Linked DNA regions of Homo sapiens: region 2 is linked to region 1. A link means that fine-mapping ties the variant in region 1 to the expression of a gene that starts in the linked region. Tissue or cell type: whole blood. Region 1 holds a variant in brackets; the other region holds the start of a gene. All regions are shown on one strand. Distances are from middle to middle.

The links. PIP is the estimated chance that this variant, and not a neighbour inherited with it, causes the effect.
Region 2: MAK starts here. The variant in region 1 is fine-mapped to the expression of MAK in whole blood (TOPMed, PIP above 0.99).

Annotation. Positions count from the first base shown.
Region 1 is chr6:10,752,217-10,760,322 of GRCh38, reverse strand. TMEM14B (transmembrane protein 14B) reads right to left here. Exons shown (of 6, transcript NM_030969.5): 5 at 5,091-5,181; 6 at 3,342-3,856. The coding sequence ends at 3,805. It also overlaps the pseudogene RNA5SP203. Among named protein-coding and RNA genes, the nearest start is that of TMEM14B, 8.5 kb to the right of the region's middle. The variant A/G (reference allele first, on the strand shown) is at 4,129.
Region 2 is chr6:10,833,638-10,841,743 of GRCh38, reverse strand. MAK (male germ cell associated kinase) reads left to right here and starts at 3,205. Exons shown (of 15, transcript NM_001242957.3): 1 at 3,205-3,241. RefSeq lists enhancers at 2,523-2,682, 2,733-2,792 and a silencer at 3,013-3,142.

The DNA of each region.
Region 1 (8,106 bases):
AAGAGCACACGCAGAGCCAGCTGTGCAGGAGACTGGAGTTTTATTGGTACTCAAATCAGTCTCCCAGAGCATTCAAGGATTGAAGTGTTTAAGGGTTACTTGGTGTGCCAGGGGCAGCCAGGTGACTCAGGAGTGCTGACTGGTCCGGTGGGAGATTAAGTCATAGGGAGTGCAAGCTGTTGTCTTGCACTGAGTCAGTTCCTGGATGGGGGCCACAAGATCAGATGAGCCAGTTTATCAATTTGGGCGGTGCCAGGTGATCCATCAAGTGCAGGGTCTGTAAGAGAAAGTGCTCCTAACCGAAATTAGCCGGGAAGCCTCTCAGGTTTTAAGTAAAGAAAACCTGTCTTTGACTACAAAGCCACGTTTCATGTTTCTTTCTTCTTTCTTTAACTCTTACAGGCATGACTATGGTCAGTGAGCCAATTCTAGTCCATTGCCTGTTTTTGTGCAGAGAGCAAGCTAAGAATAGATTTGCATTTTGAAATGGTTGAAAAAAATCAAAATAAGACTATTTTGTGATATGTAGAAATCATATGAAATCCAGATTTCAGGGCCCATACATAGTTTTATTGGAACAGTCACACTCGTTTATTGATTGGCTGTGGCTGCTTTCATTCTACAAAGGCAGAGGTGAACAGCTGGGACACAGATGGCCTGAGAAGCCTAAAATATTCACTATCTGGCCCTTTACAGAACAAGTTTGCAGACTTCCAGCTTAATGTGTCAAAGATTTTTACAAAGTCCAATTACACAAAGCCACCACTAGTGGGAGGATAAATTGGTGCATCCTCTTCTGAAGGCAATCACAATTTTAAATGCTGAGATGCTCTGACTCAGCATTTAGGAATGTAACCTACAGATTCCTTTGCACATGTTCACGGGGATTTCCATGAGGATATTTCTTGGTACACCATCCTTTGTAATATCAAAGGCCTCAGGGGATCTGCCCACCTCAGCCTCCCAAAGTGTTGGGATTACAAGCATGAGCCACTGCTCCCGGCTATCAAAGGCATTAAACAAGACATATTTCTATCAGTAGGGGAATAGTAAACTAAATAGTAATCATCCGTACAACTTAAAAGCCATTAAAAAGAATTAGATCTTGGCCTGGTGCGGTGGCTCATGCCTGTAATTCCAGCACTTTGGGAGGCAAGACAGGTGGATCACCTGAGGTCAGTTCAAGACCAGCCTGGCCAACATGGTGAAACCCCATCTCTACTAAAAATACAAAAAATTAGCTGGGTGTGGTGGTGCACACCTGAAATCCCAGCTACTCAGGAGGGTAAGGCAGGAGAATCGCTTGAACCTGGGAGGTGGAGGTTGCAATGAGCTGAGATCGCACCATTGCACCCCAGCTTGGGCAACAAGAGCCATACTCCATCTCAAAAAAAAAAAAAAAAAAAAAAAAAAGAATTAGATCTCTAAGGAAAGGGTTGAACCCAGTTATGCTACATAGTTTCATGCCTTTGAGGCACTGTATATATTGCTCGCTCTGAGACATTTGCCCCGTCCTTACCTATGAATTTCTCAGACAACTCACAAAAGGAGTTCATGTCAACTGATTCATGCATCAACTGACAAGACTCAGCTTAACTGTTGGTTCCTTTGTGAAGCCTACCTTGACTCCCTCAACAGAAATGCCCACTCCCCTCCTTGTGCCCCCACAGTAATATGGATCTACCTCCATCATACACTTATTTCTATACTGCCTTTGTTTAGATGTCCACCTCCTCCACCAGACTCCAGAAGGGCAAGCACCATGGCTTGTTCTTTGCACTGCTAGGACCCAGCACAACCCTTAGGCAGTAAATACTCAGGGATCTTTGCAGAGAAGCAGGGATGAGGGCACTTGGCAAGGGCTATGAAGATCTCCTGCCTCTCATCTGTGGGCAGCCTTAGAATTTTCCAGGCTGATTGCTGGGGATCAAATAGTCACATGGGGATCTACTTGGCACCTAAACTAATTCCCACATTCAGGGAACCTTGTCATTCATGAGGAGCCAGGTCCTCCTCTAGGACTGAAGGTGGCAAAAATGTGTGCCCTTTGGAAACACTCCATGACACATGAAAAAATGGCCAACGTTGAGACTCAAAATCTTAGCTATGGAAGCCTGGGAGGATGATAGCTTTGGATGATCTGTGGCCTTCTGATGCCTCTACCACTGCAACACAAGAGCCCTTAATTGTCCAGAGTCCTATAAAAAAGGATGGAAAACTAGGACCACCATCCAGGGGCTTATGCAAATACATAAAGTGTCTGAATTATACTCTAAACTCAACCAGTATCAGTTAGGGTAAATCAGTAGCAAATATCTTTTTTTTTTTTTTTGAGACAGAGTCTCACCCTGTCGCCCAGGTTGGAGTGCAGTGGCGTGATCTCGGCTCGCTGCAACCACAGCCTCCTGGGTTCAAGCAATTCTCCTGCCTCAGCCTCCTGAATAGCTGGGATTACAGGCATGAGCCACCACACCCAGCTAATTTTTGAATTTTTAGTAGAGACAGGGTTTCACCATGTTGGCCAGGCTGGTCTCAAACTCCTGACCTCAGGTGATCCACCCATCTCGGCCTCCCAAAGTGTTGGCACTACAGGCGTGAGCCACCGCGCCCAGCTCCTTACCTTTTTAAAGAGGGAATGAAAACTAAAACAAAGGGCACCAGATTGAGTTAATTCTTCATGTTGAAACATGAATAAAGTGAACTAAAAACGTACCAGTATCCAGTAAATGTGTCCAATGTAGAGCCCAAACTAGGTGATTCAAGCTCTAGATGGGTCTTCTAGTTTCACAATTATATATGAACTAATTAACAAAAAAAACCACTTTTTTTCTTCTTCTTTTTTTGCTACACAGTCCTAAATCTTAGAAATCCTCAGTGGCCATGCTCATTACCCCAGCACTTTGGGAGGCCAAGGAGAGAGAATCGCATGAGACCAGGAGTTTGATAGCAGCCTGAGCAACAGAGCAAGACCCCATCTCTACAAAAAAATAAAATAAATTAGCGAGGTGGTATGCACCAGTAGTACCAGCTATTCAGGAGGCTGAAGTGGGATGACTGAACCCAAGAGTTTGAGGCTACAGTGAGATATGATTGTACCACTGCCCTCCAGCCTAGGTGACAGAGAAAGACCCTGTCTCTTAAAAAACAAACAAAAAAATCCTCAGAGATCATTTTTGAAACAAGCTTCAATGCAATGTACAATCAAATAACTTTCCTTGGTCCTTAAATTACTCAAAATAGGTAATTTCTAAATATCAACAAAATACTTTCAAGTTTCTATATCTAGCAACATCTCATTCTATGAACTAGACCAGCTCTGGCAATGAAGACACCATAGGAAATATTATTTATAGTAAACTTTATTTTCATTGATATTTCACTTAACATAATTTCAAAGTCAGTCTGTGGTCTAAGATGAGCAAAAGAAAAGATATTCTAAATCTCTCAAGAGATTTTTTTTCACACTGTTCCTCTGAGCAGGGAATGGGGTTTCAGGGTTCTCAATGTCAACACCTAACATTTTACCCTTGAGATTTACCTATAGATACAGAAAGAGATAAAATCAATATACAAGAATCGATCTCTATGATGGTCTCAATAAGCTCATGTTACATGCTCACCACCTCTGTAGGGTTATAATGGTAACAACTGATTTTCCACCCCTCCGCCAAATTTGGTGTCTTTTTTTTTTTAGGTAAAATGTCAGATGCAAAAATGCTGCACTTATTTCTCTTAATACATTGAAAATAGTGGAAGATGCAGATTTTTAATCCTTCATGAGTCCAAGCTGGAACATGACTTCTGCTAATCAGATGTCATCAACATACGAACTCCAACTTTGGCGGCCATCAGCAAACTGTTTAAAACAAGTAAGATAGAAAACATCAGGTAAAGGATAGAACAGGCAACTATGTTTTTAAGGAACTAAACTCTGCAGGTTCCTCACAACTGTGTGGGGGAGGAGGTACTAAGGCAAGAGTGGTCAGAGGTAAAATTTCCATCCCTGGGGGAACCAGAGAAAAAGCAAGCCAAGGGACAGTTTCACTGAGGTCTTAAAATAGCACACATGAGCTAGATCCTAATCCAACTGCCAGTAATTTGAAGAGATGAAGAAATGGAGGCAAGAGA[A/G]AGCAAGGCCTCCCCACCATCACAGATCTGATTTATGGTAGACTCCAGCCTCTCAGTTTACTGTTCTAGACCTTGCTCCATACTGACTCTTTTGCTTCAGGTATAAAATATTATACTGGCAGCATCACGACTATGATCAGAGTAGAGTATGTAATCTTTCTTGAAAACAGGATTTTAAAAATTCCCCTGCCTTCAGGATGTCTTTATCATACTTAACAAGTGAACTTTTTTTTTTTTTTGAGACAGACTCTCACTCATTGTTGCCCAGGCTGCAGTGCAGCAGCACGATTTCAACTTACTGCAACCTCCGCCTCCCCAGTTCAAGCAAGTCTCCTGCCTCGACCTCCCGAGTAGCTGGGATTACAGGCGTGCACCACCGCACCCACCTAATTTTTGTATTTTTCATAGAGAGGAGTTTCACCATGTTGGCCAGGCTGGTCTCAAACTCCTGACCTCAAGTGATATGCCCGCCATGGCCTCCCACTGTGCTTGGATTACAGGTGTGAGCCACCGTGCCTGGCCTACAACTACATTTTTTAAAAACCACAATTTGGTTTAGGTATTATAATCAAAATTAGAAAACAGGATTCAATCAAAATTTCCTTTTAGCAAAATTTTCTACAAAAGACACCTACACACCTAAGAAATATGGGACCCCCACACATCCTCCGCAAGTCACACAAAAGGCTGCAGTCATAGCTTTGCAATAAAACTTCTGCCACCATATAGGAAGGAGCTAGGACCAGAGAACAAAGCCATCTCCACAGTGAATGGATATACTCATGTCATTTGACATTAAATCAACTATTGTTTTTGAAGCATCTCCTATTAGTGTATAAGTCAAACGTCAGTTGATGCATAGCATCAGATACTCTGAAACAAGTAAGGTTTTGAATGCATAAAGTATTCTGGGCAATAAACTGAACTCTACATGGTAAAGAAGAGTAATAGAATGAAAGTACCTGGCACCTGCAATTAAACCTACAGGCATGAATTTTCCATAGTAGTAGGATCTCATTCCCATAACACCAACAAAAGTAACAGATGTAGCGGCTGAAAAAGATACAAAGAAGGGTCAAAACTCATTAGTCTTCTACGCAGGGGAATCAGAAGTAGACCAAGCCCCACCAATCTCTCAAGGCTCACGCCTCATCCTATGCTTATTCCTCCTTCCCCAAGTAGGGGAGATTACTAGCTGCCCACATCCTATGGGTCCAAATACCAATACTGGCCAAATAGGGCCCTTCACAGCCTGGGCCCTACCTGCCCTTCCAGCCTCATCTCTTACCACTTGTCTTCTGCAAAACCCACACTTTAGCCATCAATGTGTTAGTTTTCTCCAAAATGCTGTTGTTTCTCATGCCCTGCAGATGCTATCGCCCTGCAGACGCTATTTCCTCTACCCTGCATGCAATTCCCACTGGGTATCTGTCAAAGCACCTACTACATGTCAAGCGCTGTGCTAGGAGCTGGAGAATACAAAAGTAATCGTAACTGTCTTTGCCCTTTTACAATGCTTCAGGTCTGATGGGACAAGACTTTAAACAATCACACAAAGAAAAACAAGGTACAATGTGTGCTTCAGGTATAATTGATGCTACACAAAAAAGCTCAACAGGGGGATCAACCTATTCAGGGAGATCATGCTAGGCTTTTAGCCAAGGAAGTGAAGACTGACTGAGATCTGAAATTACAGCAGGCGTTAATAAGCTGAAGGATGGGAATGCCCTTTCCAGGCAGAGGGGACAGTATATGCAGAGGCCCTGTGGTGACAGGGAGCATGGCACATTCACCCTAAAAGGGCAGCGTGGCACAGAAGTCAAGATGCAGTTTGTGAGTAAGAGGCGCCAGACCACATAGAGCCTTGAAGGCCATACTAAGGATTGGGTTTTCATCATAAGAGCAATGAGAAGCTATTAAAGGATACTAAGCAGAGGGATGCATAAAAAGAGTTGCATTATTATTATTATTTTTTGAGACAGAGTCTCACTCTGCAACACACGCTGGAGTGCAGTGGCATGATCTCAGCTCACTACAACCTCTACCTCCCAGGTTCAAGCAATGCTGAAGCCTTTTTTAATTTTAGTGGAGACCGGGTTTCACCATGTTGCCCAGGGTGGTCTCCAACTCCTGAGCTCGGCAATCCGCCTGCCTTGGCCTCCCAAAGTGCTAGGACTACAGGCAGGAGCCACCGCAACCGGCCCAGAGTTGCATTTTGAAAGCGTAATTCTAGCTATACTATAGAGAACAAACTTCAGGGAAACTAGAGGGTACATGGGGATACCAGCTAAGGAACGTCCTTGGGAATGCAGGTAAGAAAGAGGGGATAACTGGGACTAGGACGATGGCTGTGCAGATGAAAAAGAGGACAACTCAGGATAAGGGCTAGAGGTAGTGTCGACAAGACCTGCTGATGAATTAGTCAGAAAGGGGGTGGTAGAAAGGAAAGAGAGCAATCAAGAACCGAATGGATGGAGAACAGAAGACAGGGGGAGTGTGTGGCCATGAGGTTAGGTCCGGGCAGATTCCTGGAGACATCTGAAGGAAAGTGGACAGATGAATACATGAGAGTCCAGCCTGGAGGAGAGAGAAATTTGTGTCATTTGTGTATCGGTGGAAATTAAAGGCATAGGCTTCAATGAAACTGTCAAGTGAGTAGACAAGAAGAGCCTGAAGAACTTCAATATCTAGTGGCCAAAAAGGAAAATAGGTTGCCAAAAGAGAATGAGAGGATAAAAAGGGAAACCAGGAGAATGGAAAATGATTGGTCAACCGTGCTGAGAACTGCTAAATGGCCAAGTAAAATGAGGACTGAAAAATGTACATTGGATTTTGTACAAACACAGGTCACTGGCAGCCTCAGGGAGAGCTATTCCACAAACACAGGGACAGAAACAGAGACTGAAATGGGCTGATCATGTGTGATGGGAGAGGAGGCATAAATGATCTTTATTTTTTGAAACGGAGTTTCGCTCTTGTTGCCCAGGCTGGAGTGCAGTGGCGTCATCTCGGCTCACCGCGACCTCCACTTCCCGGGTTCAAGCGATTCTCCTGCCTCAACCTCCTGAGTGGCTGGGATTACAGGTGACAGCCACCAAGCCCGGCTAATTTTGTATTTTTAGTAGAGATGGGGCTTTCTCCAAGTTGGTCAGACTGGTCTCCAACTCCCGACCTCAGGTGAGCCGCCTGCCTCGGTCTCCCAAAGTGCTGGGATTATACGAGTGAGCCACCGCGCCCAGCTGCATAAATGATCTTTAAGAAGTTTGTGGTCTACCGCCATACCACCCTGAATGTGCTAGATCTTGTCTGATCCCAGAAGCAAAGCAGGGTCGGTCCGGTCCTGCATGGTACTTGGATGGGAGACTACCACCCCACCTTCGGGGAAACACCAGGTGCTGTAGGCTTTTGGCCTCCCACTCCCTCCCTCTTTCCCTCTTGGCTGGGCGTGCTGCCTCATGGCTGTAATCCCAGCACTTCGGGAGTCCAAGGTGGGCAGATCACCTGAGGTCAGGCGTTCCAAACCAGCCCAGACAACATGGCAAAAACCCTGCACCTGCTAAAAATGCAAACGTTAGCCTGACATGGTGGGAGACACCTGTAATCCCAACTACCTAGAAGGCTGAGGCAGGAGAACCACTTGAATCCAAGAGGCGGAGGTTGCAGTGAGCCAAGACCGCGCCACTGCACTCTAGCCTGGGCAACACAGTGAGACTCCGTCTCAAAAAAAAAAAAAAAAAAAAAAGGTAGTTTATGAAGGGGAAGGAGACAAGCACATCTGAATATCAATGCGGGGATCCACCTAAAAGGAGGAATACAAATACAAGACAGGATCCTGGCCAGTGTAAAGGTCTGGAGACGGTCAGGGAGAAGACACCCAAAGCCCAGAGGAAGACACTGGTGTTGGAAAGGAGGGAAACAGGACGAGGGGAGGCTTGGAGATTAAAGGCTCCAGGAGTCCCCACCTGATGGCTGCTGTTT
Region 2 (8,106 bases), 81 kb before region 1:
TCCTGGAAAGTCTGAATAATTGTTGCTTTTTCTAGATTCTCATTTGACGGTGTTCATTCCTCTGTGGTCATGAGCTCATATTTTTTGAAAAACCTAGAGGCCTAAGTTGAGGATGCCTTCTTCAGAGATGATTGTGTTTGTTTCCTTTGGGATCCAGATGATGCTCCTGACCTGGGACCACTTTGACCCCTTCTAAGCTCCCCTGGTTGATTTTCTAGTCCCTGGTCCAGCTCAGCCCTATTGCCACGGGTCCAAGGCTTCGTCAGCTGGTTGAAATGCTGAAATGGGATTTGCCTTTGGGCCACCTTTGCCTTTCAGGTACGTTCACTGCTCTGCTCAGATATTAGGTACTTTTTAGAAGGGGTTAGGAGTGCTTGGAGAATTTTTATTCTTCTATTGTGAAACGTGACAAAAAATATGTTTTGTGCATGCTCTACTTGTTTTAAAACAGAAGAGTTCTTCAGAAGGAATAAATGCTGTTTGTCCTCTTTTTGTTTTCTCTCTCTTTCCTTCCTTCCTTTCTCTTTCTCTTTCTTTTGGGAAACCTACCTTTCCTCATTCTGAAATATCATTTTTCTGAGGGATCTCCTACTACTTCCCTGACTTTTCTTTTTTCAGTCTGTCTCTTCCTCACCCCTACTCTTTCTTTCTCCACTCTTTAGAGGATGGAGTTTTCCAGAATCCCATCCCTTCTTTCTTCTTACTGTTTATTTCATCTATATCCATGATTTCATCCACAGTATCCCAACATATCTGTATTTCTAGCTCTAAAAGAACCCTAAGTTGCAAATCTATATTACAAACTCCCTTCTTGTAATCTGCATAAGGATTTTTCTCAATTCAAAAATTTCAAAACTGGGCTTGTTATCTCTCACATCCTCCATCCCTAAATCAGCTCCTCCTCTATTATTTTCCAACTTGGTCATGGATACCACTATCCACCAGTCATCTAAGCCTGATGGTCCTGCCGATTTTAACTCCTAAACATCCCTTGAATTCTGTCTTTCTCTGTCCTATTTCCATCATCACTGCTAGAGTTGGATCCTTATCATTTCTTCCCAGTCAGTTGGGAGAAAGACTCCCAATCTTTCTCTTGCCTCCAGACTTGCAGCTCAAATCCACCCTACCCACTGCTCCTCTTGGGATCTTTCTGAAATGCAAATGTGAACATGTCACTCTTCTGTGGGAGATTCTTCACTGGTCTTCCTCATTGACACATGTTAAAGCTTAGGCTTCATAACTGGGTATATAAAGCTGCTATGACCTATCTAACTTATGCTTTTTACTTTGCCTGCCTACTTCACTTATTTATTGGAGAGCAATGAATCTTTTATTTATTATTATTATTATTGAGACGGAGTTTTGCTTTTGCTGCCCAGGCTGGAGTGCAATGGTGTGATCTCAGCTCACTGCAACCTCCGCCTCCTGGGTTCAAGCTATTCTCCTACCTCAGCCTCCCAAGTAGCTGGGATTACAGGCATGCGCCACCACGCCTGGCTAATTTTTTGTAGTTTTAGCATTTTAGTAGAGATGGGGTTTCTCCAGGTTGGTCAGACTGGTCTCAAACTCCCGACCTCAGGTGATCCGCCCACCTCGGCCTCCCAAAGTGCTGGGATTACAGGCATGAGCCACCGCGCCTGGCCATTTATTATTATTATTATTTTGAGACAGAGTCTTGCTCAGTCACCCAGGCTGGAGTGCAGTGGCACGTTCTCCGCTCACTGCAACCTCTGCCTCCTGGGTTCAAGTGATTCTCCTGCCTCAGCCTCCCGAGTAGCTGGGATTACAGGCATGTGCCACCACACCCAGATATTTTTTGTATTTTTAGTAGAGATGGGGTTTCACCATGTTGGCCAGGCTGGTCTTGAACTCCTGACCTCAGGTGAGCCACTCACCTGGGCCTCCCAAAGTGCTGGGATTACAGGCATGAGCCACTGAGCCCCGTCTGTTTTTAAATGTTTATTTCAATAGCTCTTGGGGTACAAGTGGTTTTTTGTTACATAGATGAATTATATAGTGGTGAATTCTGAGATTTTAGTGCACCCATCATCTGAGTAGTGTATATGGTACCTAGTGCATAGTTTTTTTTATCCCTAGGCTCTCTCCCATCCTCCCCTTTCTGAGTCTCCAAAGTCCATTATTTCACTGTGTATGCCTTTGCATACTCATAGCTTGGCTTTTGCTTATAAGTGAGAACATACAGTTTTTGGTTTTCCACGCCTGTATTACTTTGCGTAGAATAAGGACCTCCCACTCTTCCAAGTTGTTGCAAAAGACATTATTTCATTCTTTTTTTGTGACTGAGTAGCAGCCTATGGTGTATATATACCACATTTTCTTTATCCACTCATTAGTCAATGGGCACTTAGATTGGTTCCACATCTTTGCAATTGTGAATTGTGCTGCCATAAACATACGCGTGAAAGCCTACTTCACTTTAAGCTGTGAGGGCCACAGGCATGTCTGTCGTGTCTACCTTGGCGCTATTCTTGGTCCCAAGCCCACATCCTGACACCTAATAATTACTAACTTGCCGCACCACTGCTTCATCACTTATGTTTCTGTTTCGTAGACCCTTTTTGCCAGCCAATCTGAACTATTTGCAGTAACACAAGTGTGCCTTCCTCTCTAAATTCTAGACTAGTTACAATTTACCCATTTATTCACACATTCAGTCATTTTTCTTGGAATTACCACTATCTAACTCTGTGGCTGATACTAGGCAGGTTCTCTGAATGAATAAATGGAAACAAACTTAGAAGGGCAGCTCAAGAGGTAATACATACCCAAGGAATTGACCAATTTAAGGAACTGCATACAAGAACAGTTTTTCCCCAGGCACAAGTAAACAAGTGCAAGTATGAGGCAAACAGACTTCCTTCTCTTGCTCTGCCCGGTCTGGGAACCATATTTTAATTAATCAAGACTTTGTAGAATGAATCGGAACAAAACCAAAACAAAATAAAGGGCAAACAAACCAACTTCTGACAAAGACCTGACTGAAAAGGTAATCAACTCCCCTAAACCCCAAGTCTAAATGGCACACTTGCTGCAGCTCAGCCGACAGTCCCCCGGCTCCATGAAGCCCCGCCCCGGGGAAGGCGGGGCCTGCGGGAATTGGCGGGGATTTCCCGCGAGGCCACGCCCTCTCTGGGCCGGCCGTAGGCCCGCCTGCTGCCCCCGCCGTTTCCTAGGAGATGAAACACACAAGACGCCGGAGCTTCACAAGGGAGCGAACGAGGTAAGCAGCAGGCGCGGACAGGTAATCCCCAGCGGGCTGCAGGGCCACCACCCTCTGTCCGACCCAGCCGGAGCCCGACCTGCGAGGCTGGCCGGGCATGTCCCCTCGGCGCCCTGTGCTACCAGGGCCAATCTCCGCCCGGAGACCGGTCCCTGACGCCGGTAGGGGAAGGACTGGAGGGAGGAGGGTCCCCGGAGGGGCGGAGCGGGCGGGAGTGGTCAGCCCGAGGGAAGGCGGTCGGTGTCTCCCAGACCTCTTGACCACTTTCCCGCCTCCTGGACCGCGGGGGCCGGCCTGGCGTGGGAGGATGACGGCCGGGCGTCCCTTAGCCTGAGACCCCCGCCCCTAAACTCTCCTCCGGGATCTCCCACCTCTGCTCCCCTGCTGCTTGGGCTGGCGGTGGAAACTGTTTTTAGGACAGAGAGGCAGGATTGGGTCTCAGGGAGGCAGCGGAACTGAGTTCAGAACTGTTGCAAAATCTAAAAGGAGGGAGAAAAACAGGAATTAGGTCCGACTCCAGCCCTCGCTGGTGCATCCCAAAGGACGCTCAGGTGAAAGTGGAATTCCGCACACCCCCGTCCCCCCCAACGGCGCCGGACTCCCGGCGCCCGGGGACGCCCCCTCCTTCCACCACGCGGTCCCTGGAGCCTTTTAAGAGCCCTGGTTTGCAGAGTCGGATCAGAAAGTGTGTGACGAAAACTGTCCCTTTTCTGCAAGTAATCCGTTTTAATTTAGGGACAGGTCGAGAGTGCGGTGTCGAGAGCAATAAAACTGGTTTTTAGTGGTTAGTAATCTCAATCCTACAAGGAAAGAGCTGTATGCAAATGTGGTTAGATAATCGTTTAAAAGAAACAGACATTTGTTCTAATGATAACGGAATTCTCAAAGAGGGAAGCCAAAGTTATCTGACTTTATTTATTCAGAAACACAACCCATTAAGTGAAATAATGGTGAAAACAAAAGTGACTTTCCAGCTTTTCGATCGGGCCCCGCCTCCCCGGCCCTTCAATTCCCGAGGCTTGACCGGGAGGGAGAAAGTTCCCCCAACCGCGCCACCGCCTGCTTCCACTGCAGGCACCGGGCAGGACGTTTAATCTCTTCGTCGGGGTGGACTTTTTTTGTGTATAAGCTTTGAAATAATTTGTGAATATGAGCACAGAGAACTGTGCTTTTATATTTTAAGATACAGTCTTTGTTTTCCCATTGTAATAGCTCATTTAATTTCTGTAAAACTTCGACTTGGTTAGTTTGGGATCTTTTTTTCCTGCGTTGCTTTTTAAAGAGTTTGGTGACTTTTAAAACGTTAATTACTCTTTTGTTGTGTATTAGAAGCGTTAAGCCAGCCTCGGAGTGACATAATATGTTCTAGAAAGCCACGTTGAAGACATCCAAGCCTTATCTCTTCAGTTTTTGGCAGACGCTTGTTTTACCCTTCATTTGCCCTCTTTGCTAATCTTCTTTAATCCTATCTGAATCTCTTATTAGCTGGCAAAAGCTGTTGAGAGTAAAGGCTATATTTACAACAATTGTGCACTTAGAGAAACGGTAATTATGAACTTAGATTAAAAAGTTGAAAACTAGAATGAGAGATAAATTATAAGGGTATTTATTTTTGTGTAGGTCTATAATTAAGCCTCTAAATAAGCATCTTTTTCTTTAACCCATAGGAAGGTCAATAAATGTTATAGCTTGATTGTAGAAAATTCCAAGTTTTTAACAATTCTGTTAAATTGAGGATGATAGTTATATTTACTTGGGTTTTTTGTTGCATATGTATCATATCTATATATATTCATGTACATAAGAAACTGTGTTAATATATTCCTATTTTGTAGATTAGTTTTCCATAGGTCAACAGAGAAGAATATATGTAACTTGTAGAGAAATATTATTGTGCGTGAACTGGAGAACCATGGGAAGCCTGTGTTTAAGGAACATAGACTGCTTTTTGATTAGTAATCAGTAGTTGCTATGCCACATTGATAAAAGTAGTTGCTTATGTGCTATCAGGGAGCAGGGACATGGAATAATGATTTTTTAAAAGCTTTACCTTGATGTCTATGTCTCTACATTAGACAATTGTATGTTCAGGGGATAGAAGGAACAGTTGCAATGATCAGCGTCTCACCCTGGGCAGCTGTTGATTTTGTAATTAATGTAGTTCAAAAGAAGCCTTTCCAAAGTTTTTTCTTAGGGAGCGCAGTATGTAAAGTTGTTTTACTTAAAGGTTAGGTAGGGCTTAAATGGGACAGATCCTCACAGAACCACTAATCTGACCTTTTAAAAATCTATGTCACGTCCGTAATCCTCAACACTCCACCCCTCAAACAGAAAGGAGCTGGGAAATGGTCGTGTTCCTTGCTTATTCTTCCCTCAATATAAGTACACCCTATCCTATAGCCATCATCCGTTGAAAGACAATTGGTGTTGCCGGTGTTTATTCAGAAGTTGATTGGTTAGGCTTGGAATGAAGTTGCCAAAATAGCCACTCGCAAAGAGACTGTGCACGCAGGCTTGGGTCGAAAGTCATCAGTGACTGAATGCTCTATTGTGCTGATAGTGCTGGTGCAGCTTCAGGTCACCCTCCCACCCCAGGGCGGTGGTGATGGGGGTGGCTGATGGCCTTAATAGTGGAAGAGAGAGGTGTAATTAATTCTTAATTTTTAGATTGTTGGGCCAATGAAGGTGATTTTTTTGTCACTCTTTGTGTTTCCACTTCCTGAATAACACTCGCTACCATCATTACCATGCAACCAGAGGCAGCTCCCTCTTCCATTCCCTTCTCAAGTCATATGTCCTTTTTCAGAATTGTCTGCATTACTTTTCTACCTTTTAGACCCTCAAATGCTTGTCCTTGGTTAGGTGTTAACATGAAAATAATTTGGTTAAAAGAAAAGATGATGCTATCATACCATTATGTTTCTGAATTAAATAATTTTCATGGCTGGGCGCAGTGGCTCACGCCTATAAACCCCAGCACTTTGGGAGGCCGAGGCAGGTGGATCACATGAGGTCAGGAGTTCAAGACCAGCCTGGCCAACGTGGTAAAACCCTGTCTCTACTAAAAATACAGAAATTAGCCGGGCATGGTGGCACGCGCCTGTAATCCCAGCTACTCAGGAGGCTGAGGCAGGAGAGTCCCTTGAACCTGGGAGGCGGAGGTTGCAGTGAGCAGAGATAACGCCACCACACTCCAGCCTGGGCATCCGAGCTGTAGGAGATTGGTCAGGGTGGTGGGAAAAATCGTAGAAAGATGCAAACCTTCTTGGAAGGCCAGGGGTTTGCAAAGCTTCAAAAGAAAATTTGGCTGAAGGCAGCTGAATTCTCTTAAGAGCTTAGGTTAGATAACAAGGGGATGTAAAGAAACTAATCTAGATAAGTTAGTTTACTTAGGCCTCAGAACCTGGCCTTTAATCATCCAGACGCAGGACTGCGTGGGGCGGGGGAGCGGTGCGACCATGTTAATTACCCACAAGTGTGTTAACTCAAAGCCTTTGTCATTAAATCTGTGCTGAATAAATGCCCACAGCGCCAGCTGAGCAGGGCCACGGTTTACAGCACCCTCCTGGGGTCTGTGTGCTGCCCGGTCCCCTAGCCCGCTCTTTCACTGGATACCTGTGTCTGAGTGCATTCTTTGATCTGTCATTCAGCCAGGGTCTGCGGGTCGGACCTGGCACAGAGTGAGACTCTGTCTCAAACAATAATAATAATAATAATAATAATTTTCATGAGAGGAGCACCACCTAGATTCTTTCTCCCTTAACCATTCAAGTTCTAAGGTCTCACTCTTTCCCTTCACTGTTTCTGTTATTTTTCACTGGTCTGAATGACCCAGATGTAGCATTAGGGTTTAGTCAGGATATGGAGTAGTCCCACTTCACTTTCCAGGTAGTCAGCAATATCTTAGTGTTTGAGTGAAGAGCTGCATTAGGAATCTTAAGGTGGAGGTTGGGGTAGGTGGCTTGAGTTGTGGAGCTTAGTCTGTGTGGTTTTGGAGCAAAGAGGATGATTTCTTTAGCCTCATTAGGGATAGTAAGAGCTGGCACCAGTTCATAAGAATGGCTTGTTTAGAAGTTGGAGACGACCCTGAAAAACCAACAACATCAAGCCAAATGCAACTATTGGATTGACTCCATCGTTGATTCTCTAGTTGATCCTAGACAGGTCATTTAATCCTTCCATGTTTTTATTTTATGATCTTACTGTCATAAGGAACATGATGGCCTTTTGTGCAAATATATTCTCTTTATGCTTACTTAATCAGAAAGAATCAGTAAACCTAGAGATCACATATTTCCTAAAAGAGATAGATATATGTCACCTTAAATAGGCTAGCTAGAAAAGAGTGTACAGCAATTGAATATGCTGGTGATAAATTGCAAAATACTGATTTAATAAAATCCTAAATGAGAAGAAATATATTTTAGTCCATGTTTTGTTTAACGTAGTACAAAACAAAACAACCCAAAAGATTTTTCCAAATTATATTTGCTTATACAGATAAAGGCAAAATGAAGAAAAGCAAATTCATGTTTTGATTAGGAACCGTGCAGAGAGAGAGACTGCCTTTCTCTATATTAACACCTTAATATTTGGAATCAGTGTCTATGAATAAGGTGACAATGACTTACAAAACTATTCTTTTTCAGGCAAATGGGGAACCATTTGCTGGTACTTATGATTATTAGCTCGGGCTTAATCTGACAAAAAGGAAGAAACCCCTAAATAGAGATGGAATCTGCTGTCATGTTCTCTTTTTCAAGATCCTGGCCATGGAGTTAGCTAGCCTAAATTATTTTATATGTGCCTTTGAAGGGATTGTTACCTACATGAAGTAAGATAAATGTTAAATACGTACTCCCTAT